Linked DNA regions of Homo sapiens. Changing the gene in region 1 together with any one later gene gives a genetic interaction. Each region holds a gene or a part of one and is shown in the gene's direction. Other genes may lie near its edges.

The links.
Region 2: changes in EP300 (region 1) and SEC24A together harm fitness less than expected from each alone (positive genetic interaction), as found in Homo sapiens cells (one large-scale study listed by BioGRID).
Region 3: changes in EP300 (region 1) and RICTOR together harm fitness less than expected from each alone (positive genetic interaction), as found in Homo sapiens cells (one large-scale study listed by BioGRID).
Region 4: of EP300 (region 1) and ETS1, changing one enhances a phenotype caused by changing the other (phenotypic enhancement), as found in Homo sapiens cells (one study listed by BioGRID).
Region 5: changes in EP300 (region 1) and SAR1A together harm fitness less than expected from each alone (positive genetic interaction), as found in Homo sapiens cells (one large-scale study listed by BioGRID).
Region 6: of EP300 (region 1) and FLII, changing one suppresses a phenotype caused by changing the other (phenotypic suppression), as found in Homo sapiens cells (one study listed by BioGRID).
Region 7: of EP300 (region 1) and TRERF1, changing one enhances a phenotype caused by changing the other (phenotypic enhancement), as found in Homo sapiens cells (one study listed by BioGRID).

The regions. Positions count from the first base shown.
Region 1 is NC_000022.11:41,095,592-41,099,091, forward strand, and holds part of EP300 (histone acetyltransferase p300), read left to right. Parts: intron 1-3,500. UniProt on the Homo sapiens protein: Functions as a histone acetyltransferase and regulates transcription via chromatin remodeling. Acetylates all four core histones in nucleosomes. Histone acetylation gives an epigenetic tag for transcriptional activation.
Region 2 is NC_000005.10:134,655,285-134,658,784, forward strand, and holds part of SEC24A (protein transport protein Sec24A), read left to right. Parts: intron 1-3,500. UniProt on the Homo sapiens protein: Component of the coat protein complex II (COPII) which promotes the formation of transport vesicles from the endoplasmic reticulum (ER).
Region 3 is NC_000005.10:38,945,400-38,948,899, reverse strand, and holds part of RICTOR (rapamycin-insensitive companion of mTOR), read left to right. Parts: intron 1-1,458; coding exon 1,459-1,636; intron 1,637-2,347; coding exon 2,348-2,432; intron 2,433-3,175; coding exon 3,176-3,409; exon of another isoform or gene 3,410-3,500. UniProt on the Homo sapiens protein: Component of the mechanistic target of rapamycin complex 2 (mTORC2), which transduces signals from growth factors to pathways involved in proliferation, cytoskeletal organization, lipogenesis and anabolic output.
Region 4 is NC_000011.10:128,479,559-128,483,058, reverse strand, and holds part of ETS1 (protein C-ets-1), read left to right. Parts: intron 1-2,607; coding exon 2,608-2,868; intron 2,869-3,500. UniProt on the Homo sapiens protein: Transcription factor. Directly controls the expression of cytokine and chemokine genes in a wide variety of different cellular contexts. May control the differentiation, survival and proliferation of lymphoid cells.
Region 5 is NC_000010.11:70,153,515-70,157,014, reverse strand, and holds part of SAR1A (small COPII coat GTPase SAR1A), read left to right. Parts: intron 1-3,045; coding exon 3,046-3,177; intron 3,178-3,500. UniProt on the Homo sapiens protein: Small GTPase that cycles between an active GTP-bound and an inactive GDP-bound state and mainly functions in vesicle-mediated endoplasmic reticulum (ER) to Golgi transport.
Region 6 is NC_000017.11:18,248,739-18,252,238, reverse strand, and holds part of FLII (protein flightless-1 homolog), read left to right. Parts: intron 1-92; coding exon 93-240; intron 241-422; coding exon 423-559; intron 560-761; coding exon 762-974; intron 975-1,221; coding exon 1,222-1,401; intron 1,402-2,830; coding exon 2,831-2,913; intron 2,914-3,037; coding exon 3,038-3,112; intron 3,113-3,355; coding exon 3,356-3,439; intron 3,440-3,500. UniProt on the Homo sapiens protein: Is a regulator of actin polymerization, required for proper myofibril organization and regulation of the length of sarcomeric thin filaments. It also plays a role in the assembly of cardiomyocyte cell adhesion complexes.
Region 7 is NC_000006.12:42,252,927-42,256,426, reverse strand, and holds part of TRERF1 (transcriptional-regulating factor 1), read left to right. Parts: intron 1-1,500; coding exon 1,501-1,576; intron 1,577-3,500.

The DNA.
Region 1 (3,500 bases):
TAACTTTTATTGGAGGCACATCACCTCTTAAAACTTTTAAGTTTCAAACTTGTAACTTTTGATTTTTGAGTTGTCACTTGGGTATTTTATAAATGTGAAAGAAAATTATTTCTTGATATTATGGTTTTTGTCTAGAACTGGTTGAAATAAGCCCGAAATTCTAGCACCTAAAACTTTTTTAAAAAAAGTGATTTAGGCTTGCAAATTTCGTGATGTAAATATATCCACCAAGAGCGTTCTAATGTCAGCTTTAAAGGAAAGAAAACTGGAATCCAATGGGATGACATGCTAAAGTGTTACAAATCAAATTATTACTTAAATCTCAACCTCTGAATTGCTGTTTAATACTCAGATATTCTCCTAAAAAATTTCCAGGTTGATTCAAATAACTTAGGTTAAACTCAACTTTTACGTGTTGGGATGGGGAAGAGAAGACTTATTTGTAGCCTTCACACCTTTATGTTCCTGTTTCAGTATTTGCATTTGATCCATTGAAATTTTTATTTCATTTGGTATGGTTAGGGTAAAACAAATCATTTGAGAAATGACATTTTGTTCTCCCTCTCCCTCCAAAAAAAAAAGATTATGAAAGCCACTTGTAAACTTTTTTTGTAAAAATGACCAAAAGACTGGAAAAGTTAATGTTAGGCAAATCCTGGAAATATCTTTTGGAGCTGTTTCTGATCATCTTGAGTGATGGAAATGATGAGGGTCATCTGTTGTCTTCATTACTCAGTGAACACGTTTTGTCACTGCTTGGTAAACGCTTAATGCCGTATGCACTTAAAAAGCACCTGGAAAGATAGGATTTTAGGATCTGGCATATAATTAAGTAGGGTAAAGATCCTTCTGGTCTTGGTACAGTTTTGTGGCCCTGGGTTTTGTGCTTTTTTGTTTTTTGAGTTTTTCCCCCATTTCAAAGACACAGGGCAGATAGTGTGTAAAGTATACCTGCTTTTTGACCAGTAGATTAATGTACACAGTGGAGAAGTGGTAAGGCTTTTTAAAATGTCAGCTCTACTTTTTTTTTTTTTTTTTTTTTTTGAGACAGAGGTTTGCTCTCGTTGCCCAGGCTGGAGTGCAGTAGCTCGATCTTGGCTCACTGCAATCTCAACCTCCCAGGTTCAAGCGATTCTCTGCTTCACCCTCCTCAGTAGCTGGGATTGCAGGTGTCCACAACCATGCCCAGCTAAGTTTTGTATTTTTTAGTGGAGACAGTATTTCACCATTTTGGCCAGGCTGGTCTCGAACTCCTGACCTCAGGTGATCCACCCGCCTCAGCCTCCCAAAGTGCTGGGAATACAGGCGTGAGCCACCATGCCCGGCTGTCAGCTCTATTTTCTTAAAATGCCATTGTGTTAGTGGTTCGTCATCCTAACCAAAACATTTTGATCAAGACCATTTATTTTCCAGCTCTGTAACTTGTGATATGCTATGTTTTATTTTATTTTGGCTTGAATGTTTACATAAGAGTTTGCTTCTGGAGTCTTGCAGATATAGCTCCTGATTTAGTGAGGCATTTCTCTCCTCAGTATTAAATTGCAAAACATTTTACTAAAGTGCTTTAAGTTTTTCTGGCAATTATTCTCAAGGCCTTGTAAGTTCATTTATAGGACTTCAAGAAGGTTGTCTCTGGTTGATAGTGAGATAAAGTGACTTTTAAGTTGTAAATCTTGAATGCGTTACAATATGGGGGTCTTATTCCAGCAGGAGTTCATCTTCTATAGCAGAGGTTGGAATTGTATTGGCATGTCCAGTGAATGGATAATAGGGAGGAGGGAGGAAAGGGTTTCTGCCTTGGTGGCCTTTTGGCATTATTTTGTGTTTTTCTTTGCTTTTCTCTCTCTTCTTTATTTAATAAAAACAAAAAAATGGAAACAGTTGAAAATTAATGCAAAGTGGTATTTGTAGGGACATTAAGTGGTAAATAGGAAAGAGAAAAAGAGTAGGAAGAGTGTTGCAGATACAAGTGGGAGTGTAAAATACTTTTTCCTGGTATATTTACAAAAACAATTTGAGAGTTATTCTGCCAATTCATATACCCAGCAATTAATGGAAAAGTAAAAGATGCTAGTTTTATGTTTGTCCAGATTTTAGGGTTTCCTTCTTTGAAGATTTCTAAAGTTGAATATTTTTTTAAGTGAGGCAAGCAGTAAAATTAATGGGCAAATGAAACCAATTATACCAAGTCTAAAATTTTTCTTTTTTTTTTGAGGCAGAGTCTCGCTTTGTAGCTGGGACTACAGGCGCCTGCCACCATGCCCAGCTAATTTTTTGTATTTTTAGTAGAGACGGGGTTTCACCATGTTGGCCATGATGGTCTCGATCTCCTGACCTTGTGAACCTCCCATCTCTGCCTCCCAAAGTGCTGGGATTACAGGCGTGAGCCACCGCGCCCAGCTAAAAATTTTTTTTTTTTTTAATACTTTTAAGTTTTAGGATACATGTGCACAACGTGCAGGTTTGTCACATATGTATACATGTGCCATGTTGGTGTGCTGCACCCATTAACTCGTCATTTAGCATTAGGTATATCTCCTAATGCTATCCCTCTCCCCTCCCTGCTAAAAAATTTTTTAACATTGAACTTCGCAGGTGATTTTTTTTCGCTTAATAGACGGTAGTTTCATTTTGAAATTTTCATGGGAAATTACTGCTCACTTTCCCAGAAGCGCTTAAGAGGATAAATAATAATTGAGGTGTTAAGCCTCTTCTGAGCAATTTGGATATAATTTGTTTTTAGATCTAGATTCTTTTTTATAAATGTCCCAAAGCAATTAGAAGTGATTGTTTTTTTTGAGACGGAGTCTCGCTCTGTCGCCCAGGCTGGAGTGCAGTGGCGCGATCTCGGGTCACTGCAAGCTCCGCCTCCCGGGTTCAAGCCATTCTCCTGCCTCAGCCTCCCGAGTAGCTGGGACTACAGGCGCCCGCCACCACACCCGGCTAATTTTTTGTATTTTTAGTAGAGACGGGGTTTCACCGTGTTAGCAAGGATGGTCTCCATACACTGACCTCGTGATCCGCCCACCTCAGCCTCCCAAAGTGCTGGGATTACAGGCGTGAGCCATAGCACCTGGCCCTAGAAGTAATTTTGTTGAGAGAGAGAGAGTAAAACTAAAAGTACTGAAAAGAGTAAGAGAGTAGCTAAGAGAATGAGTATTGGAGTCAGACTGCTAGAGTTCATAGCCCAGGCTTGTATTTATTAACTGTGAACTTTGGGCCAAATACTTAACCTGGCTCAACCTCCTCACATTTATTCCTAACCACAGCCCTGTAAGGTGGGTGCGCACCTTATAGGAATCCACCTTACTTACCCACCTTACAGGATTGTGGTTAGGAATAAATGAGAATTCTCTTTATCAGATGCTTAGGACTATGCTTGCTTCTGTGTAGTATGTGTTCATTGTTAACTGTTTTTAACTTTACTGCTAAATATATCAGAAGGAAAGCAGTGGTAGATGGTTTGGGGGTTGTTTTTGTTTTTTTGATTTGCAACGAAG
Region 2 (3,500 bases), on another chromosome or scaffold:
TCATCTGCATTCATTCTTGCCTCTAACTTTCTAATTTAGCTTCTTTACCCACACATCCCAAAATTGTCCTTAATAAGGCCACAAGGCTGGGCGTGGTGGCTCATGCCTGTAATCCCAGCACTTTGGGAGGTCAAGGCGGGTGGATCACAAGGTCCGGAGTTCAAGACCAGCCTGGCCAACATGGTGAAACCTTGTCTCTACTAAAAATACAAAAATTAGCCGGGTGTGGTGGCGTGCGCCTGTAATCCCAGCTACTCAGGAGGCCTCAGCCTCCTGAGTGATTCTCAGCAGGAGAATCACTTGAACCCGAGAGGTGGAGGTTGCAGTGAGCCGAGATCATGACATTGCACTGCAGCCTGGGCGACAGAGCAAGAATTCATCTCAAAATAAATAAATAAATAAATAAGGCCACAAATGGCTTCCTGGTTATTAAATAGAAAAATATTTTTCAGTTCTCATTTTCCGAGCTGCATTTGATACCTTTGGCTGTTATTTTGTTTTTACAACAATTGCTTTCTTTGGTTTCTAGGATATCACCAGAAGGGTAGTTATGGTTTTCTTTCTTTTTTTTGGTTGCTATTTCTCAACAGCAGTATTCTCAATATTTCTTCCATTTCTGATTGTTTTTTTCTCTCTCCTCCTTAAATATTGGTGTTCTTCAAGGTGACCTATTTTTCTTACTCTTATATACTCCCTGGGTGTCTTTAATTCCCATGGTTTTAAATCTTATGCATAGATCAGTGACTCCCATAATTATATCTTAAGGTGAAATCTGTCACTTTGGCTGCAGCTAAATATCTTTTTTTTTTTTTTTTTAAGACAGAGTCTTGCTCTGTTGCCCAGGCTGGAGTGAGGTGGCACGATCTTGGCTCACTGCAACCTTTGCCTCCTGGGTTCAAGCGATTCTCCTTTCTCAGCCTCCGGAGTAGCTGGGACCACCGGCATGTGCCACCACACCCGGCAAATTTTTTGTATTTTTAGAAGAGATGGGGTTTCACCGTCTTAGGATGGTGTTGCTCTCCTGACCTCATGATCTGCCCGCCTTGACCTCCCAAAGTGCTGGGATTACAGGCCTGAGCCACCGCGCCCAGCGCAGATAAATATCTTTATACTGGACATCTCCACTTAGATTTCTTGGTGGCACCTGAAAATTAGTGTGTTTAAAATAACTCTTCGATCTCTCTTCCCTTTGCCATTCCCCACCTTTGTTTTTTTGAGACAGAGTCTTGCTCTGTCAACCAGGCTGGAGTGCAGTGGCACGATATCCGCTCATTGCAACCTCCGCCTCCCAGGTTCAAGCAATTCTCCTGCCTCAGCCTCTGAGTAGCTGGGACTATAGGCGTGTGCCACCATGCCCGGCTAATTTTTGTATTTTAGTAGAGACGGGGTTTCACCGTGTTGGTCAGGCTGGTCTCGAACTTCTGACTTCAGGTGATCCACCCACCTCGGCCTCCCAAAGTGTTGGGATTACAGGCATGAGCCACTGCATCCGACTTTTTTTTTTTTTTTTTTTTTAAAGACAGCTCTCATTCTGTCGCCCTGGCCGGAATGCAATGATGCAATGATAGCTCACTGCAGCCTTGAACTCCTGGGCTCAAGTAATCCTTGATCCTTGATCAAGTGGGTGGAGTGGCTCATGCTTGTAATCTTAGTACTTTGGGAGGTCGAGTCAAGAAGATCCCTTGAGCCCAGGAGTTCGAGACCAGCCTGGACAACTTAGGGAGACCCCATCTCTACAAAAAAATTTAAAAATTAGCCAGGCATAATGGTGCACGCCTGTAGGCCCAGCTACTCAAGAGGGGAGGTGGGAGGATCGCTTGAGCTTGGGAGGTCGAGGCTGCGGTGAGCTGTGACACTTCAGCCTGGGTGGCAGAGCGAGACCTCATTTCTGAAAAACGCACACACACACACACACACACACACACACACAACCAAAACTTATATTTTGTAGAGATAGGGACTTGCTATTGCCCAGGCTGGTCTCAAACTCCTGGCCTCAAGTGATCCTCCCACCTTGACTTTCTAAAGTGCTGGGATTGCAGGCATGAGCCACCGTGCCTGGCCTACATTTCTATTCTTTTCTCTTTCTGTTCAAATGAATAAACACGGCCATCCACCAGGTTGCTCAGGTCAGAAACCTAGGAGTCATCCTAGATTTTTTCCTCTCTTCATCACCCATATTCAATTCCACATAAAATCCCATGAATGCTGTTTCCTCAAATCAGTTTTTAAAAATTTGAGTAATGTATAGATACTAAATATTTCTCTGCTGTCCCAATGTTAAATTATTTATTTATTTATTTTACTTCTGACACAGGTTCTCACTCTGTTGCCCAGGCTAGAGTGCAGGGGCATGATCACAGCCCACTGCAGGCTTGATCTCTTGGGTTCAAGTGATCCTCCCGCCTCAGCCTCCCAAGTAGCTGGGAATATAGGCACGTGCCACCACAACTGGCTAATTATTTATTTTTTTGTAGAGACGAGGTCTCACTATATTACCCAGGTTATTCTTGAACTCCTGAGGTCAAGCCGTGCTCCCACCTTGGCTTTTCAAAGTGCTCGGATTACAAGATCAAGCCAACATGCCTGGCAAAAATTATTTTTATTAAATGTGTATATGCAAACACAAAACTAGATGTAAACTTCATAGGGTTATAGCTATTGTACTATTGTAAAACCAAACATTAAAAATATCAACATATGGCTGGGCATGGTGGCTCACGCCTGTAATCCCAGCACTTTGGGAGGCTGAGGTGGCCAGATCACTTGAGGTCAGAAGTTCAAGAACAGCCTGGCCAACATGGTGAAATCCCGTCTCTACTAAAAATACAAAATTAGCCAGCGTGGTGGTGCACACCTGTAATCCTAGCTACTCGAGAGGCTGAATGAGGCAGGAGAATCGCCTGAACCCAGGAGGCGGAGGTTGCAGTGAGCCGAGATCGCACCACTGCACTTTAGCTTGGGCAACAGAGCGAGACTCTGTCTCAAAAAAAAATCAAAAGCAATATAATTCAATTTTAAAACATTAAACAATATGCTACATTTTGTTTGAAACCACAGTTGATTTGATTGTTTTAATTTTGAATATGTTGGAACATTACTTGGGTGACTATCATGCTCACTTTTTCCTTTTTGTTTTTGAGACACGTTCTCACTCTGTAGCCCAGGGTGGAATGCCTAATTATAGCTCACTGAAGTCAAACTCCTGGGCTCAAGCAGTCCTCTTGCCTCAGCCTCCTGAGAAGCTAGATCTACAGGCATGTGCCACAACTCCTGGCTAATTTTTTAATTTTTAATTTTTTTGTGTGGAAATGGAGTCTCGCTGTGTTGCCCAGGCTGGTCTCCTACTCCTGAGCTCAAGTAGTTCTGCTTTGGCCTCCCAGTGTGATGGGATTACAGGCATGAGCCACCATGCCCAACCTCTACACGATTTTAATAGGGGAAGAATGGGGTGGGGGAGAGGACATTTACTGGAAAACAGACGACTTATAGGAAGGATA
Region 3 (3,500 bases), on another chromosome or scaffold:
GTAATCCATCTAGCCCTTACATTATTCTTAATAACATTAAGCAGTTTTGTTTCAATAATGCTTAACACATTTAATAGAGGGTTTCTTGGTAGCAGACAATGAATTGTGTACCCTTACAGGATTTAAGAAATTATGCAGCAATGTCTCATCTATCTGGAACTCACTAGCTTTGGCAACCTTGTCCAGGACAAAGCCAGGGAAAGTTCTCAACAGCTCACTGTTACAAATCTATGCAGTAAAGTTCATGAATTTTGAACATTCCTAAGCCTCAGTTACCTCATCTGGTGGAGATTGCACTAGATCAGTGGTTGTAAACTTTTGTATTGTTGTTTTTTAAGCAGAGAAATTATTTTTTCACATAAAGATTTCTGTGGAAACCCAATAGGTAGAATAGATAGAAAGGGACCTATACTGGTTGAAATAGGAATTGGGAAGGGGAATAATCCAATAATTGTTTTCCTCCCACTCCAGTAATCCTTGAAGAGTTTTATGGGAACCAAAGAAATGTAACAGATTACAGTTTGAAAGAGTGTTTTTTGGGTGGAAATTAGGAGCATGGTTTTTGCTATGTTAATAGCTACTATTTAGAAAGCATTTCTTTTGTGTGTTTTACAAAATAATTATTTGATTTAATATTAGGCTGCATTCGTACATTTTAAAGACTTGGTTTTCCAAACAAAAATATCTTCATATAAATGTATATAAATGTGGAACCTTGCATAGTGCCTTGTATATATACAGCAGATACCAAGTAAATATTTTAGCATGTCTGTTGCATAAGTAAGAATCTGTATGAGAAACATGTATCTTATGGAAATATCAGTGTATCATATTTGTTATGGAATCTCTAGTAGTAAGGAGTACATTGTGGAAATATCAGTACATTGTGGAAATATCAGTGCTTTTTACAAGGATATCTCGTCATAAATGACCATTTTGCTCTTGTGTCTGTCTTGTGTGCTACATAAATCTTATGTTGATAATGAAGGCATTAAGGTAATTATCACACAAATAATGATATGTAATTGATCTCATTTTTTATAAATATAATATTAAATAGAGTTGATACACATATCCTTAGTTACATAAATGCCAAATCTAGTAGTCTCAAGTGATTATGAAGATAGTCCTTGGACCATGCTCTGACTACTGAGGTCAGTTTCTTTTTTTACTTCTAGATGTTGAAAGTTATTCTAATTGCCCACCTTTTCACCTTTACCTGAGAGACCATAACAGTTGTTTTTGGTAACAGTCAACATTACTGGTGACCTTTTACATAGCGGTCTATAACAGCTAATATTTTAAAGTGTTTATGTGTTGCCAGTAAACAAGATGACACTGCTTAATACATGACTAGCTACTTGTCTTTTATGAAGGTAGGAATATATGTTATTTCTTCATATGATTAAAATTACAGATCAAGAAACTAATGCAAGTGGTTTCTTTATGGTTTTATAGGTTCATGAAAGCCTTAAGTTATGCATCATTAGATAAAGAAGATTTATTGAGTCCTATTAATCAAAATACCCTGCAACGATCTTCCTCAGTGCGGTCCATGGTGTCCAGTGCCACATATGGGGGTTCAGATGATTACATTGGTCTTGCTCTCCCGGTGGATATAAATGATATATTCCAGGTATTATCATACATTTTATTGTTTTCCTATGAGTTGGTTTCCTATTTTTTCATATGCTGTAACTGCTTACTAGAAATCATAATTTAGGGTGGGCACCAGTTTGGGGCAGCATGATTTTTAAGACCGTTTTGTTTAAAGAAACTTTAAGATTAAAATTATTTTGCCCTTTTCAACTACTCTGTACTCTTTTATTTAGTCCTTAGAACATTATCCTTCCCTCTCTTCCCATATTAAATCAGTATCTCATTTGATTTCTTTATCCATATATTCTCTGTAGAAATTTATGAAATTTCTAACTTGTTTTTTAGTCACATTTAACTTATACCTCATTTTTAAATCCTCATTCCTATTTATCCCATAAAAGGTAGCCAGCCATATGTGGTACCCAGTAATATAAGGTGACCCTAATCCCAGGAGATACCCACAGATCTCTAGATGGTATATAGTACTAAAGAACACATTTTCTTAGAAGTTGAAAGACATTTTAGATAAACGCTAAAATAATTAATGTCCATTTAGTCACTAATAATATAATAAGGACTTTTTGGGTTATTTTGTTAAGTTTTGGTAGTTGAACCTTCAGTAAACTTGATTATAGGTTCATATGCTATGGTAATTCTATTTTAATTTTATTTTGTTTAATTTTGCTAATTTTCATAAAGTGGGCTTATTTTTATAGCAGGACTTACCATGGTTTATATCTTTTTTTAGGTAAAGGATATTCCCTATTTTCAGACAAAAAACATACCACCACATGATGATCGAGGTGCAAGAGCATTTGCCCATGATGCAGGAGGTAATGCATTGTGCATTGTACTTGTGAGATGCCTCTTTATATTAAAAAGAAAACTCTTAGTTCTTTCTAGTAGGATAACACTAAAAATTTAGGAAGACTCACTTTTGGATCAACTTTAAAATTATACCAAAACAATTGTTAAAGTCAGCTTAAAATTAAACCACATTTTTGTGTATGTGTGAGGGACTTAACAGTGTTTTCAGTGAAGTACTCAACCTTTCAAGGAAATAGAAACCAAATTAGTTGTTTCTGTTTTTTAAAAGTAGCACATGAACAATGTATAACACTAATCCTCATAGATCCAGGAAATAGCTGTTTGTTTAGAGTAAGGAGAAAGAAATGTACTTATAAAATACACGGTCTTTGTTTTGAACTGTTATATTTTAATATGTAAATATAAGCCACAGGTTTTATAGCTTTATATTCTTAATGACTTTTTAAACAAATGCCTCTTTATACTTAGAATTATTACATATCTTTAGGCAAATATTGACGATAATTGAAATGATGTATTATATAATCTCAATTTTCCATTTTGTATTTAAAACACTATATATTAAAATAATAAACATCTGCTGGCTTTCCTTATTTTTATAACTTAAAGCAAATTATTCTTTTTTTCTTTCCAGTTAGATTTTGAGTCATAAAATGTGCTTAAGCTTTCTTTAAAATTTCACATAATTTAAGGTACCTTGAAAAGTATTATCTTTATTGGATTATGTTTTATATTTACTTATGCACAGGTCTTCCATCTGGAACTGGAGGTCTTGTAAAAAATTCTTTTCACTTGCTACGACAGCAGATGAGTCTTACGGAAATAATGAATTCAATCCATTCAGATGCCTCTCTGTTTTTAGAAAGTACAGAAGACACTGGACTACAGGAACATACAGATGATAACTGCCTTTATTGTGTCTGTATTGAAATTCTGGGTTTCCAGCCCAGCAACCAACTGAGTGCAATATGTAGTCATTCAGGTAAGTGATCACGTCCCACCTTCAGAAAAACCTAGTGATGACTAAAGTTCTCTGGTTTACTTTTCCAAATTTCTTTTTGGTATTCTAATTC
Region 4 (3,500 bases), on another chromosome or scaffold:
TTGATTCTGAGATGCTGTGATTGGTCTAGACCGAAAGCATTACTGTTAGCTGATTGTTATTTATACTAACCATAGTACAGTATTCACGGGCTGCATTACAGCGTACAGAGTGCTTCTATGCCCCACTTATTTGGGCCCTAAGGACTGTCTTTGTACGAGTCTACTCAGTGGGTGGCTGGGTGCTGCCGCATCTTCTGTTTTGAGTGCTCTGAGGTCTGTTTGGTGGACTCAGATAGCTTTGGAAGGAGCTCGCCGAGGCCCTTCTCAGAAAGGCTGGCTAGTGGACAGTTTAGAGAACACAGGTTTCCCTACATGAGCGCAGCAGCATAACTGAGTATCTAATCCAGTTGGATTCTACCCATTTTTGGAGAAAATACCCGTAAATGAAGGTTCCCAGCACCAGGGTTGTGAAATCGAGCTAAAATGAAAGCTGCCTACCGCTGTAAACCACAACTCTCAACAGGGTTGCATTTGCCTCATGTTTGGGGGGTTGCCAGAGACTGGTTCTGGCTTGGTTTAGTCCCCTTGCTTAGTGGGACTCCTTGGAAACTCTACTATCTTGCTTGTGAAAATTCTGATGTCCTTTTTCTCCAAGTATAAAATTGGCTGATAGAAATGGAATCATTTCAGAGAGACTTTAGCATAAATACTATCGACTTGGTGCGGTGTTGATGAAAATATAAATTCTCCTTCTTAGGCTTTTGGTATGTTTGTCTCAAAGAGAAAATAAGTGACCATGAAGATCAGTAGCTGGTATGAACAAATACCTTTTTATGAGACGCCACAGAATTTCCTGTTCTGCTAAAACAAGGCTTTGACATTCTGGTTGTAGGCTGTTTTCTTAAATCATTTAGTGTGAATTTCTTGAAAGAAAATTAAATGATCTCTAAAAAGGTGAAAAAGATGACTTTTCTGGTGGGTAAATGGGAAAGAATTTTTAAGAATTATAAAGAAATATATATTCATTTTTAGTAAGAATGAAGAGGTGCCCTTTTGCTAGTGGACTGGGTGGGCAGGGCTGATAACTCCATGAAGCTCTTCAGTTTGCTTTCCAGAGATTACCCTCCTCTGAATGGATGAGTGGAGGAAGGAATGAGATGAAACGGATGACACCACCTTTCTGTTTAAAGCAGTTCCAGAGGGGGTCAGGATGTAGAGAAAACCCACAGCAGTGGATTTTACAAAAAGTACACACTCAACCGAATACATTTTATCCGGATCTTTAAACAATGTTGGGAGCAACATATTTTCCTATATATTTAATTTAGGTTTGGGCATCTGTTCATGTTTGATGTTTATTGTTTTAACCAATCTCCGCTGTCATGGAGGGAAAAATACACTGGAGGCACACTAATATGAAGTTGTATAAGTCAGCCTTATTCTGGGATTTGAAATTTATAGATCAACCACCCCTGAACAATTAAGAGTTGACTTACGGATATTTCTCCGTAAACATTTGTCACATCCCTTTGCCTTTTGGCCTGTGCTGAATTGAGGTGACCATCTAGTCTCCTATGATTTAACTTAGGTTACTTGAAAAGTATCTGAAAGTTGCATATAAAAACCATTCCTGCGAGCCTTTTTCGCTCTTAGATTCATTTGTTTTCCTCCAAAACTATTTTTTTTTTTTTTTTGCTAGCCTCCTTTTTAGTGGCATTTTTGCCAATGGAAATTTCTCCAGGAGCTATTGTGCAATCATAGCAGCTGTTTATAACCTGGTTTGGGAAATTAATGAACTTGCATGATCTTGTGGTCAGTTAAGAATGCCTTAAGCAACTCACACAGTAAAGGATTTCTGACACTGCTGTGGACCTTAACTCTTTAATAAACCTTTTAAATATTGCCTACACTTTTCCAATGAAGTTTAAATTTCAAGTACATAATTTTACTTGGAGAGGATAAAGAATATGGTTTTCTGTTTAGAAGAGTGATAGTGTGTGTGATTTTAAAAAATCTCTTGGGAAAAGCATCTTACACCATCTTACTCTATTTGAAAAGGCATAGGGTCAGTACATGTATTTCATATTAAAATAGTATTTGGGAAAAATGCTAAAAAATAGCACTTAGTTCCAAGGTCAAAACAGGCTAATCTGCTCTTAGTCTAATGGGATTCTTTTTTCTTATGACCAAAATGTTTTCCAAACTGGGCCTTTTGAAGTCATCTCATTGGCTTGAGCTGGAGTGGGGAATTCAGCCTGACATTGCTCTGATTTCTTCATTTATTCATTGGGCCTACGACATCAGCCAGAAATCATATCATAACATGTGTGATCCTCAGCTTCTAGATTTCTGGCTTTAGAACTCTTGAGGACCCAAACGCTACTCCGACAGATGTGAGCAACGTTTGACTCTGAATCTCTGTACTTGGAGTTCTCAAACCAGGCAGCAGAGTGGCCGTGGACCCTCGGATGGTGGCCTAGTGCAGCCCCTTTCCTCAGAGTAAACCCATGACCCCTGAAGCTTCTGTTCCCACTCGCCTCTCCCTTCTTCCGTCCTTCCTGCAGATCTGATTAGCAATCTGTCCTCCATAAGAGGGTTTTTACAGTTTTTTTTTTTTCCCACTCCCTCCTCCCCCTGTCCTCTTCCTACCTCCTCCTTTACCTCCAGGTAAACTCGGGGGCCAGGACTCTTTTGAAAGCATAGAGAGCTACGATAGTTGTGATCGCCTCACCCAGTCCTGGAGCAGCCAGTCATCTTTCAACAGCCTGCAGCGTGTTCCCTCCTATGACAGCTTCGACTCAGAGGACTATCCGGCTGCCCTGCCCAACCACAAGCCCAAGGGCACCTTCAAGGACTATGTGCGGGACCGTGCTGACCTCAATAAGGACAAGCCTGTCATTCCTGCTGCTGCCCTAGCTGGCTACACAGGTAGGCGCCCTCCCGCTGCTTAGGCCAACTCCATCTGCACGTTTCTGTGGGTGGGGTCCTGGAAGGCACTCTGCACCTCTGACCAGAGACGACGAGAGACTCCCTTTTGCAGGGCACGGGGGAGAAGTCTCTCTAAGAATTCTTTAGTCTCTCTCCAGCCACTCTGCTTGTGAATAGCCATTGATTTTTGGAAGCAAATAGTATCATTCTCTTCAAAGGGATCATTTCCAAGAATGGTAGGAAACTTACATTTTGGGTGTTTTTCCATGTCTGGGGGAAGGGAACTATAATGATCTGGTGTTCCTGGAAACTCTATCTAGTGGCCTGGCATCAGGGGATTTTTCCTGGTCTGCTCTTGGGAGGTCTTTCTAAATACAAAATCAGCAGCAGCATCTCTCAAAGGCACAACTGAATGGCCTCCGCACTGGACTCTTCTGCAGCACGGTTCTCCTTAGGCCAGCTGTTCAAATGTGGGAACAGTATCCTCAGTGGCACTACGCCCTGTCCAGATCCATCCTGGCCTATAGAGAATGCCCCTTCTCTTACTCGGCTTTATTATCAGTTTTCTTCCAGGAGCGAAAGCTATAGTTATGATAGTGATGGGTGAAGAAAGGCCATAGAGAAAGGAAGAT
Region 5 (3,500 bases), on another chromosome or scaffold:
CTCCCACTGAATGACTTGCCAGACCTTCATGGTCTGTTCTCAGTCTTCAGTTTTGGTTGCATACATCCTTTGATACTATTAAGGACTCACTTCAAGTTTTCTCCTTTGTCAACATTGCATTTTCTCATGGCTTGATGGTTTCTATACTATTGGCTTTGTTATCCCTACTCCTTTACCCTATATCTCTTCTTTCTCTTTGATTTATAACTCCTTGCATTCTTGTTTCTGGCAACTTGAACCTGTCTTGAATTTATTTCTAAGTATGTTTCTCACATCTATAGCTCCAGCCTCATGTAGAATTGCCTGCCACGCAGTCTTTACCTTGCTTTTTTTTTTTTTTTTTAAACAGAATCTTCCTCTGTGGCCCAGGCTGGAGTCCAATGGTGCAATCACGGCTCACTGTAACCTCCAGACTTCTGGGCTCAAGCGATATTCCTGCCTCAGCCTCCCAAGTAGCTAGGACTACAGGCATACACCACCACACCCAGCTAATTTTTTTTAAAAAAGTGTTTTTGTAGAGACAGGGTCTCATTATGTTGCCCAGGCTTGTCTCAGTCTCCTGGCTTCAGGTGATCCTCTGCCTCGGCCTCATGAGGTGCTGGGATTACAGGCATGAGCCACCATGCATGGTCTCCATTCTCTTTGTTTAAACTCCTCTTTTCACTCTTGATTTTGGAGCTACCTCTCTGGCTGATACTTCTGTCTCTTTGAGAAGCACTAGTTCTTCTGGTTAGTCCTTAAATGTTGGTGTTCTCCAGAGTACTTTCTCCTAGGCTGGTCCCATCTACTCCCTTCATTTGGCACCTACATGTCAGTGACTCTCAAATGCATTTCTCTCCTCTAGACCTCTCCTGAGCTCTAATCTCATACCTAATCCTGCCTACTCTCGACAACTCCTACTACTGATTCTGTTTTCCTAGAATGGAACTATTTGTCTTTCCCACCCACCACCTACCTGGACATGCAGTCCACAAATCTGTGAATTAATATAAATCCTACCATGACCCTGATATGCACCATAATGCTAGAAGGAACTTTCTCAGACTTAATTGCCCTACTTAATATCCTTTGATAGTTCTCTATCATTTTCAGGATAAAATCTATAAATCTTTTGCATAGCACATAGGATCATTCATGATCCTCCCTCTGTTTCTTTTTACTGCCTACCTTGAACTATATTCCAAACAAACAACTTAGCCATCCTTGAATATGCACAAGTAGCTACTGCCTGGCTTTTTCACCTGTACCTCTCCTCAACCCCTCGCTTTGTCGGCAAATTTTAAAATGTTCTATAAGAGACCTCAGAGTTCAGATATGACTGCTTCTGGTAAGCCTCCCTTGACCTCTGAGACTGTGTTAGACTCCCACCTTACCAATGTCTGTTGTCTTTATTGATTTTTTTATAGTTCTCTCTCATCAGACTATGAACTAACATGATAGGGACTGTGTCTTATTTCTTTGCAAAACCCCTGCACCTAGCAAAGCATTAGACACATTAGGTACTTTGTTGTTGCTTAATGAATGAAGGACATTCTTATTCTAATTTTGTGTAACATTTCCTGGAATTCCAGATGGTCAAAGTACATTCCTCTTTATCTCTTTAACTCTGCTTTCCCCGCTAGCTTTCCTATTGGTGACAACTAGATTCCCAGGCTTGAAATCAGTGGCAGTTTTGACTCATTTGTCTTTTTTAAATTTTTTTTTTAATCATTTAGACATTGGTCTCTTCAATTCTTTCTTCAAAATGCCTCCTGCAGTATTCATTGAATGCTCTACCTTAAGCTAGATCATGATCTCTTACATGAACACCACAGATAGATACTATTTGTGAATTCATTATACTGAAAAATAAGATTTTATTCACTAACTTCTGGATTTGTGGTCTTTTAGGATATATTGCAGCTCACTTCTCACACTGGCCCCTAATGTGAGTCATCTCTTCTCATCCATTTACTTTGTCGCTGCATGTCTATCTAAATGCTTGAATCCAGCCATGCAGTACTGTGTGGCTTCCTGAATTATTGTCCTAATGCAAAGCCGTTGTTTATGTTCTTACTTCTCCTTTACACCTATCCAAACCCTGCCCTTCCTTTAGAGCCCTGTTTAGGTTCCAGATCTTTTCTAAGACTTTGCTCAAGCCCAAAATTGCCATTTTATTTCCCTGAACTTGTCTTAATGTTAATATTCAGTTCCCATTCATTGTGACACTTATCCACTATATTGTGTTCTTACTTGGCTTTGTTAACATAAATGTGGCTGGGCGTGGTGGCTCATGCCTGTAATTCCAGCATTTTGGGATGCTGAGGTTGGCAGATTACTTGAGGGGCAGGAGTTTGAGACCAGCCTGGCCAACATGGTAAAACTCCATCTCTACTAAAAAAATACAAAAATTAGCCAGGCGTGGTAGCACATGCCTGTAGTCCCAGCTACTCAGGAGGCTGAGGTGGGAGAATCGCTTGAACCTGGAAGTCACAGGTTGCAGTGAGCTGAGATTAAGAAAAAAGAAAAAAAACATAATGTGAACATAGAGTGAGGATTTTTTTGAGGACAGGAATGTGCTTCCTTTTGTATCCTCAGTGCCTGAGATAGTTACCCTTCCTACTTTATTCCTCTCAATGCCTGAGAGAGTTCTTCGCACACAATGGGACTTGGTGAATACTTGGGGAATTCCTGTAGTCATCTTTGAGGCTCTGTAGCCAGAGCATTCATTCTTATAGGACTTTGCTGAGGGACATCCTGAGGATAGTTTGTGGCTGAGCAGATTAGCTCAAAAGTTAATATTGGGGCAGTTCTGCTGCCTTGTAAATAAATAGAATAAAGTTGCAACTGTTTCGAGGCACTTAGGAGATTTTTACTTAATGTCATGGGTGTTATGTAATGTCAAGGTGAATCTTTAATCACTCAGGTATAAAGTTGATCAGATTTTCACTTTACATTAATGCCTTAAAAGATTAGTGGAAGTCAGAATTTTCATTATCTGGTGGGCTTTTGTAGATTCCTCACTTAATTCTTTTTTTTCTTTTTTTCTTTTTTTTCAATCTTTAGGCTTTAATGACTGATGAAACAATATCCAATGTGCCAATCCTTATCTTGGGTAACAAAATTGACAGAACAGATGCAATCAGTGAAGAAAAACTCCGTGAGATATTTGGGCTTTATGGACAGACCACAGGAAAGGTAAGAGAAAAATATTTGGGTTACATATAAAGGACATTAACAGTTTTTAAAACATGATGTTTCGCTATCTAGATTACCCTTTTCTTTTAAAGGCTTAAACAGGCTTAGGATTAGTTTTACTGTGAGTATTTTGTAAGCTCACTAGAGGCAGGAGTGTGTTCTTTTTAACGTTTTAAATGGGATTCATTCATCAGGTATTTGAGGAAGAAGGAAATGGTAGAAAAGGCAGATTTACTCTTCTAAGAGTTTATGATTATCTTTCAAATTTGATTCTGAGAAATTGCTTTTGAAATAGCCCTTTTTAGCCAGAAAATAATTTTTTT
Region 6 (3,500 bases), on another chromosome or scaffold:
TGGCGGCTGCAGACAAGAGCAAGAAACTGGATTGGTGTGTCTGGGAGGTAGGACCCAGGCTCAGTGCCGGCTCTGCTCACCCTATGGGGCAGGTCCTGGATGTGCGGGAGAACCCCAACCTGGTCATGCCGCCCAAGCCCGCAGACCGTGCCGCTGAGTGGTACAACATCGACTTCTCGCTGCAGAACCAGCTGCGGCTAGCGGGTGCCTCTCCTGCTACCGTGGCTGCAGCTGCAGCTGGTGAGTGGGGAAAGGTCTGGCCTGGGAACGGGGGCTCCTCTCCAGGCCTCAAATGACACATCTGTAAATTGGGTGGCATACAGCTTTCTGGACCCTGGTGGGTGGAGTTGGCCCCTGGTTGGTCGCATGCCCAAGGGGGCAGCAGGCCCAGTGAGGGCTCAGCTGTTTGCCCCTCCCCTAAGCAGGGAGTGGGCCCAAGGACCCTATGGCTCGCAAGATGCGACTGCGGAGGCGCAAGGATTCAGCCCAGGATGACCAGGCCAAGCAGGTGCTGAAGGGCATGTCAGATGTTGCCCAGGAGAAGAACAAAAAGCAGGAGGTGAGCCAGGCCAGGGTTGGGACAAGGCAGGGAGCCTTAGCTTCTGCTGAAGGCCGACCCTGGCCTTGACCCTGGCCAAGAGGGACGGGGGGTGCTGGGCAGAAAGAACAGCTGTGCAAAGGCCCTGAGGTGTGGGTAGCAAGTAAAGACTGGCCTGAGTGGCTTCACAGAGTCAAGCCGTGCTCTGTGACTCTGCCCCCAGGAGAGCGCAGATGCCCGGGCCCCCAGCGGGAAGGTGCGGCGTTGGGACCAGGGCCTGGAGAAGCCCCGCCTTGACTACTCCGAGTTCTTCACGGAGGACGTGGGCCAGCTGCCCGGACTGACCATCTGGCAGATAGAGAACTTCGTGCCTGTGCTGGTGGAGGAAGCCTTCCACGGCAAGTTCTACGAGGCTGACTGCTACATTGTGCTCAAGGTGAGGGCTGGGCATGCTGTTAGGGGCCATGTGGCCCAGTACCTTCCTCTAAGATGGCTCAGTCCCCAACTCCAGAGTTTTGTTCAGGGAGGCCAGGTGGGAGGTGGGCAGGCTGCAGGAGGTGGTCCAGGCACAGGGGCAGTACAAAGCCCCTGGGGCTGGGAAGCCTGTGCTGTTCAGAGTGGCGTCTCCGGGGTGGCCGGAAGACCAGGATGAAAGCTGATGTGGCCGGTGCCTTGGCTTCCAGACCTTTCTGGATGACAGCGGCTCCCTCAACTGGGAGATCTACTACTGGATTGGCGGGGAGGCCACACTCGACAAGAAAGCTTGCTCTGCCATCCACGCTGTCAACTTGCGCAACTACCTGGGTGCTGAGTGCCGCACTGTCCGGGAGGAGATGGGCGATGAGAGCGAGGAGTTCCTGCAGGTGCCAGCCCGTTAAAATTGGGGGTGGGCAGAGTGGGGTTCCCAGGGAACTCTGGTGCAGGGGCAGTGGGCCCAAGGCAGGTAGGCAGAACAGGTGGGCAGGCAGGGAGCTGGGGTTAAAGGGGGTGGATCAACGATACTGTGCGGGACCTAAGGCAGACCGCAGGGTGAGGTCTAAGGTGGCCAAAGCCTGGGTCAGCAAAGGAGAGTTCTGGAACGCGGGGCAGAATTCAGCCGGGCAAGGATAAGGGTACAGGCTGGGCATGGGAGCTAGACCAGTGGGCTGACACAGGGGAGCTGAGAGTAGGGTGGAAGGGGTGTTGCCAAGAGCAGTGAGAAGGCAGGGCCAAAACCTGTTATTAGGAGGCAAGGACACACCTGGATGCCAAGGAGGTGGGGCCAAGGGCGGGACCAGAGTCCAGTCTTGAATAAATTACTGAGCAGTGTTAGCCGCCAGCTGGTTACACCTAGACATATGTTCGCATGTACACACACGTGGAGTTTATGCACACACCCCACCCGCCCCGAGTTTTTTTTACCCACATTCACCCAGGTTTCCACTCTTCCATGAACCCACTTGCTTGTGTACCCTGATATGCGTGCATCTAAACATGCTGCTGGCATCTTTACAAACGTGGGTGAACGTGTCCATATTTTTCATACATCCCAACACCCCGACGTGTGTATGTTTATAGACACAGATGTGTATGTTTTATTTTAGACAGACTCTCGCTTTGTTGCCCAGGCTGGAGTGCAGTGGCACAATCTTGGCTCACTGCAACCTCCGCCCCCAGGGTTCAAGCGATTCTCCTGCCTCAGCCTCCCAAGTAGCTGGGATTACAGGCATGTGCTACCACGCCTAGCTAATTTTTGTATTTTTTTAGTAGTGATGGGGTTTTGCCATGTTGGCCAGGCTGGTCTCGAACTCCTGACCTTAGGTGATCCACCCGCCTTGGCCTCCCAAAGTACTAAGATTACAGGCATGAGCCACCGTGCCCAGCCAGATCTGTTTTTTTTGTTGTTGTTTGTTTGTTTGTTTGTTTGTTTTAAGACAGAGTTTTGCTGTTGTTGCCCAGGCTGGAGTACAATGGCACAATCTCAGCTCACTGCAACCTCCGCCTCCCAGGTTCAAACAATTCTCCTGCCTCAGCCTCCCGAGTAGCTGGGATTACAGGCATGCACCACCACGCCTGGCTAATTTATGTATTTTTAGTAGAGACAGGGTTTCTCCATGTTGGTCAGGCTGGTCTCCAACTCCTGACCTCAGGTGATCCACCCACCTCAGACTCCTGAAGTGCTGGGATTACAGGCATCATAGATTTGTAGCACTCAATTCACCTGTATGCAACTCTGTACCCCCACCTGAGGGGCAGTGGTTGGTGGGGGAGGGGGCAGCTCAGTGATGAAGAACCACACCCTCACACACACAGGTGTTTGACAACGACATCTCCTACATTGAGGGTGGAACAGCCAGTGGCTTCTACACTGTGGAAGACACACACTATGTCACCAGGTGAGGGTGTGTGGGCAGTGGGGGGTATGGACCTGGAGTCTGCTGGCAAGGGGTGGAGGGGAGGGTGTTGGGGCTAAGTTAGGCCCTTGGTGCCTACACTGAGCCACTCTTGCCCTGCGCCCAGGATGTATCGTGTGTATGGGAAAAAGAACATCAAGTTGGAGCCTGTGCCCCTCAAGGGGACCTCTCTGGACCCAAGGTGAGCCCCAACAATGTGAGGTGGGGGTGCTTCATCCTCAGCCTCCTCCCCACCAGTGGGGGCAGGTGTGGGCCTCTTAGAAGAGGAGGCCCTCTAGCAATTCCTGCCCACGAGCTTGGCGGGGGGTCCCTGGGGCTTACCCAGAAACCCCATAGTGAGGGATTTTTTTTGGTGGGGTCAGGAGCATGGGGTGACCATTGCCCCATGCACCATCACAGCTCCTTCCTGCCCCTTCTTGTCCAGGTTTGTTTTCCTGCTGGACCGAGGGCTAGACATCTACGTATGGCGGGGGGCCCAGGCCACACTGAGCAGCACCACCAAGGCCAGGTACAAGGACACCGTGGGGTCTTTTGTGTGAAGGAAAGGGGTGTGAGCCTCGCTGATGACT
Region 7 (3,500 bases), on another chromosome or scaffold:
TCCAGTGATGGAGGTAGAAGGCTTTACTGAAGCAGAAGTTGGTCTAAAATAGCCTATCATACTCTGCTGATTCTTCTTCCCTACTATGGAAATCAGCCAAAGTTTGATGTTTATAGAACTCTTTTCTCCTCTAACCAAAATAAAGTGTTTACTGTTCACCAACTGGTTCCATTCTTCCACTTTTAACACAGTTCTGCAGATGTTCCCAAACCCATGCCTTGGTGCTGTCTTCCCAAAATCAGAGCTAACAGTTGACCTGCTCAACCTGGACTTCCTTTTTTTTTTTTTTTTTTTTTAAGATGGAGTCTCACTCTATCGCCCAGGCTGGAGTGCAATGGCATGATCTCGGCTCACCGCAACCTCTGCCTCCTGGGTTCAAGCGATTCTCCCTCCTCAGCCTTCCTAGTAGCTGGAATTACTGGTGCATGCCACCATGCCTGGCTAGTTTTTGTATTTTCAGTAGAGATGGGGTTTCATCATGTTGGCCAGGCTGGTCTCGAACTCCTGACCTCAGGTGATCCTCCCACCTCGGCCTCCCAAAGTGCTGGGATTACAGGCATGGACCACCGCACCCAGCCTCATCCTGGACTTCTGACCAGATCACTCAATCACTAACCTCTGTTTCCCCTTTATATAAATACATGGTAGTATATCTAGCTTCCTGCATTTTGATTTTATGAAAATGTGAAAATAAATGTCCCAATACTATGATACCCTTCAAGTATTTCCTAGAATGCTGGAGAACTGTCCTTAACCCTTTGAGATCAGTGTGGCAGTGTAGCACTTCTCAGACTTTCAATGTGCGTGCACATCACCTGGGAAATCTTGTTAAAAATGCAGATTCTGATTCAGAGGCTTGGGAGTAGGGCCCAGGTTCTGCCTTTTTGACCGGCTCCCAGGTGAGGGACGTACTCCTGTTCTATGGACCACACTTAGAGTAGCAAGATTCTAGGCCCTGCTCTGCCCTGAAACTATCTTCTGTTCAACTCTGCCTGCGGCATCTTTTAAAAAGCTACCGAGGCTGATTTGAAACAGTTTATTTAGCTAGGCTCTCTGGAAGGATGGTGTGTGTAGTACAGTTATTACTGATGCAGCTGTTTCTATTCAGCTGTAATGAAACACGATTTTTCTATAAAACAGTTACAGATCACCCACTCATTTCCTAGGAATCTTTGCCCAGAGACTCAGCCTCCAGTCAGAGGAGGCACCACTCATCTCTGGGGCGGGTGGGATTTTACCAAGGAAGAGTCAGGTCGTTCTGTTTTCCTGTGACATGAACAACTGGCTTCAGGCATGGATGGAGAGGGTGTTAGAAGGAGAGTCTTATTTGCTGAACAGACATGAAACCCTAGTTAGGGGAGTCTCCCTCTGGGTTTCCTTCCAGTGCCCCCGCCCCTGACCTCCACAGTGCTAACCGCTTTTCCCCTTTGGGTAGATGATCTCCATAGGACACACAGACCAGTTGCTGACTCTTGCCTTTTCTCTCCTTTGGGTCTGCAGGTTGCTCTGGAAATGCTGCTACTGCGGAAGCCTGTCAGGTTAAAATGTCATCCTTTAGCAAATTACCACTATGCCGGTAGGTTGCCAGGAGCCCTGTGTCCTGTTGCCTCCTGACGACGGGCTGCTTGCATGTTCGGTTGTGTCACTTTCTAGCAATGGATAACACCGGTTCTGTCCTAATCACCACTTGTGATCTCAAGGCCTCCTAGGGCAGAGCTATGTCTGTTGCTTTGGCTCTGTTGGCATTTGTCTGTTGGCATAAGCTCCTGCCCCTTGTGGGTGTGCCAAGACCTGGGTGACAGTGGACAGTGCCTGCACGTGTGGCAAGGAGACGAGTGCATGAGACCAGAGAGAGCCACAGAAGGTACAATCAGCAGCCCCCTGCTTTTGGAATCAGTAGCCATGGGTTTAGATTCTACCGCACCCCTTGGCCAAGTCCCATGGTCTTCTGCAGCCTGGGTTTTCTCACCTGTAAAATGAGACTTGTATTCCATCCCTCGTAGTGTTTTTGTGAGATTAGAGATGGTATATGTAGCCCAATGCCTGGCACATCCTAGTAGCATTTATTACTCATGTATCCAACAATTATTTTTTGAACACTTACTGTGTATTAGGGACTTGCTAAACACTGAGATGCATCAGTGACTATGACAGACATGGGCAGAGTCCTACGTCGTGCAGCTCAGAGGCTCTGAGGAGGAGGCAGTTATTAAATAATGGATCACACTGACAGGAAAGTCTTCATACACGCAGGGTTTTGTATGTGAATTAATGACAATACCACAATAAGAGGGAAGTAGAAGACACCTATGAGATTTAAATGGACTGAGAATTGTGAAAAGTGAAGGAAATAGGTCGGAGAGCCTAAGAAGTGACCAGTGACACTGAGGTCAACATTTTCATTTCCATGCACTAACTGTTCCTTCTGAGGGTCTCCACAAACCTAAGTTGGTTCTTTATTTTGGAGGGGGCTGAATTTTCAGTGCCTCTTGATTTTTAATCACTTGAGGGTTTCTTTGGTGCTCTGGGCAGACCCTGCCTAGGCAGGTGCCAAATATGTGGGCTTGGGGACCTAGCTATACGTTTTCCAATCTTTAGTCCGGGCAGCCCAGTGAGGGCTTCTTTACAAATATTGGCTTGCTTTCTCCACCAACATTTGCCTCACCTACTGTGCTCCTCCTCTTTCATGAACGAGCCTTCCTGCCTGTCATCACAAGGCAGACCTCAAAGCCCCTCTTCCAAGCACAGTAAGCCCAAGATGTCTGCCTGTAGGTCACTCCTGGAACTAGGCCAATACAGAGTGGACACATGGAATAAGAAATTCATCACTTCTCCGGTGGCCTAAAGGAGCCAGCTTCTTAATATTTTCTCCATCATTTCCTGCTTGGTGTCTGTCCCAAGTGTGGGTAAAAAGATGTAGGAGTTCTCCCTAATCTGCCATGGAAACAGCTCAGTCCTCTCTCTTAATTTCCAGCATCATCTGCTGCTCATTGAACCCTGAGAGGCTGTCCAGCCTCCTGGAGGCTGTCTCAAGCTTCTTTGCATGATGGTGGGACAGTGGGTTGGCTAAAAGGAGGTTCCTAACCATGTGCTGTGAGAAACTGCTGCCCTCAGCCCTCAGAGTGGCTAGGGTCGCCAGAGCCTCTGGGCTGGTTAGCTCTAGCTGTGAGCAGCGTCATCTGGGATACAGCTCTCCTCTGGTTCTTCCAAGTGTACCAAACAAGTATCATTTTATGTGTATCATGACATTAAAAAGGTCAGAAAGCTATGTACTAGGAGCGCCACACACCCCAGTCAAAACAAAATAAAAACACTAAAATATTACCAAAAACTTTGAAACAAGAGGGCCCTAAACTCTGCAACAATTAATTGATCTCTTGAGGTTAGGGGTTTCTAGCTAATCCCTTGCCTGTCCCCTGTCCCCTTCCCCAGCAGGCAGACCAGGAAGGACTCTGCTGTTTTCTGGAATCATTTCAATCCTTGGAGGCAAAAGAGATAGA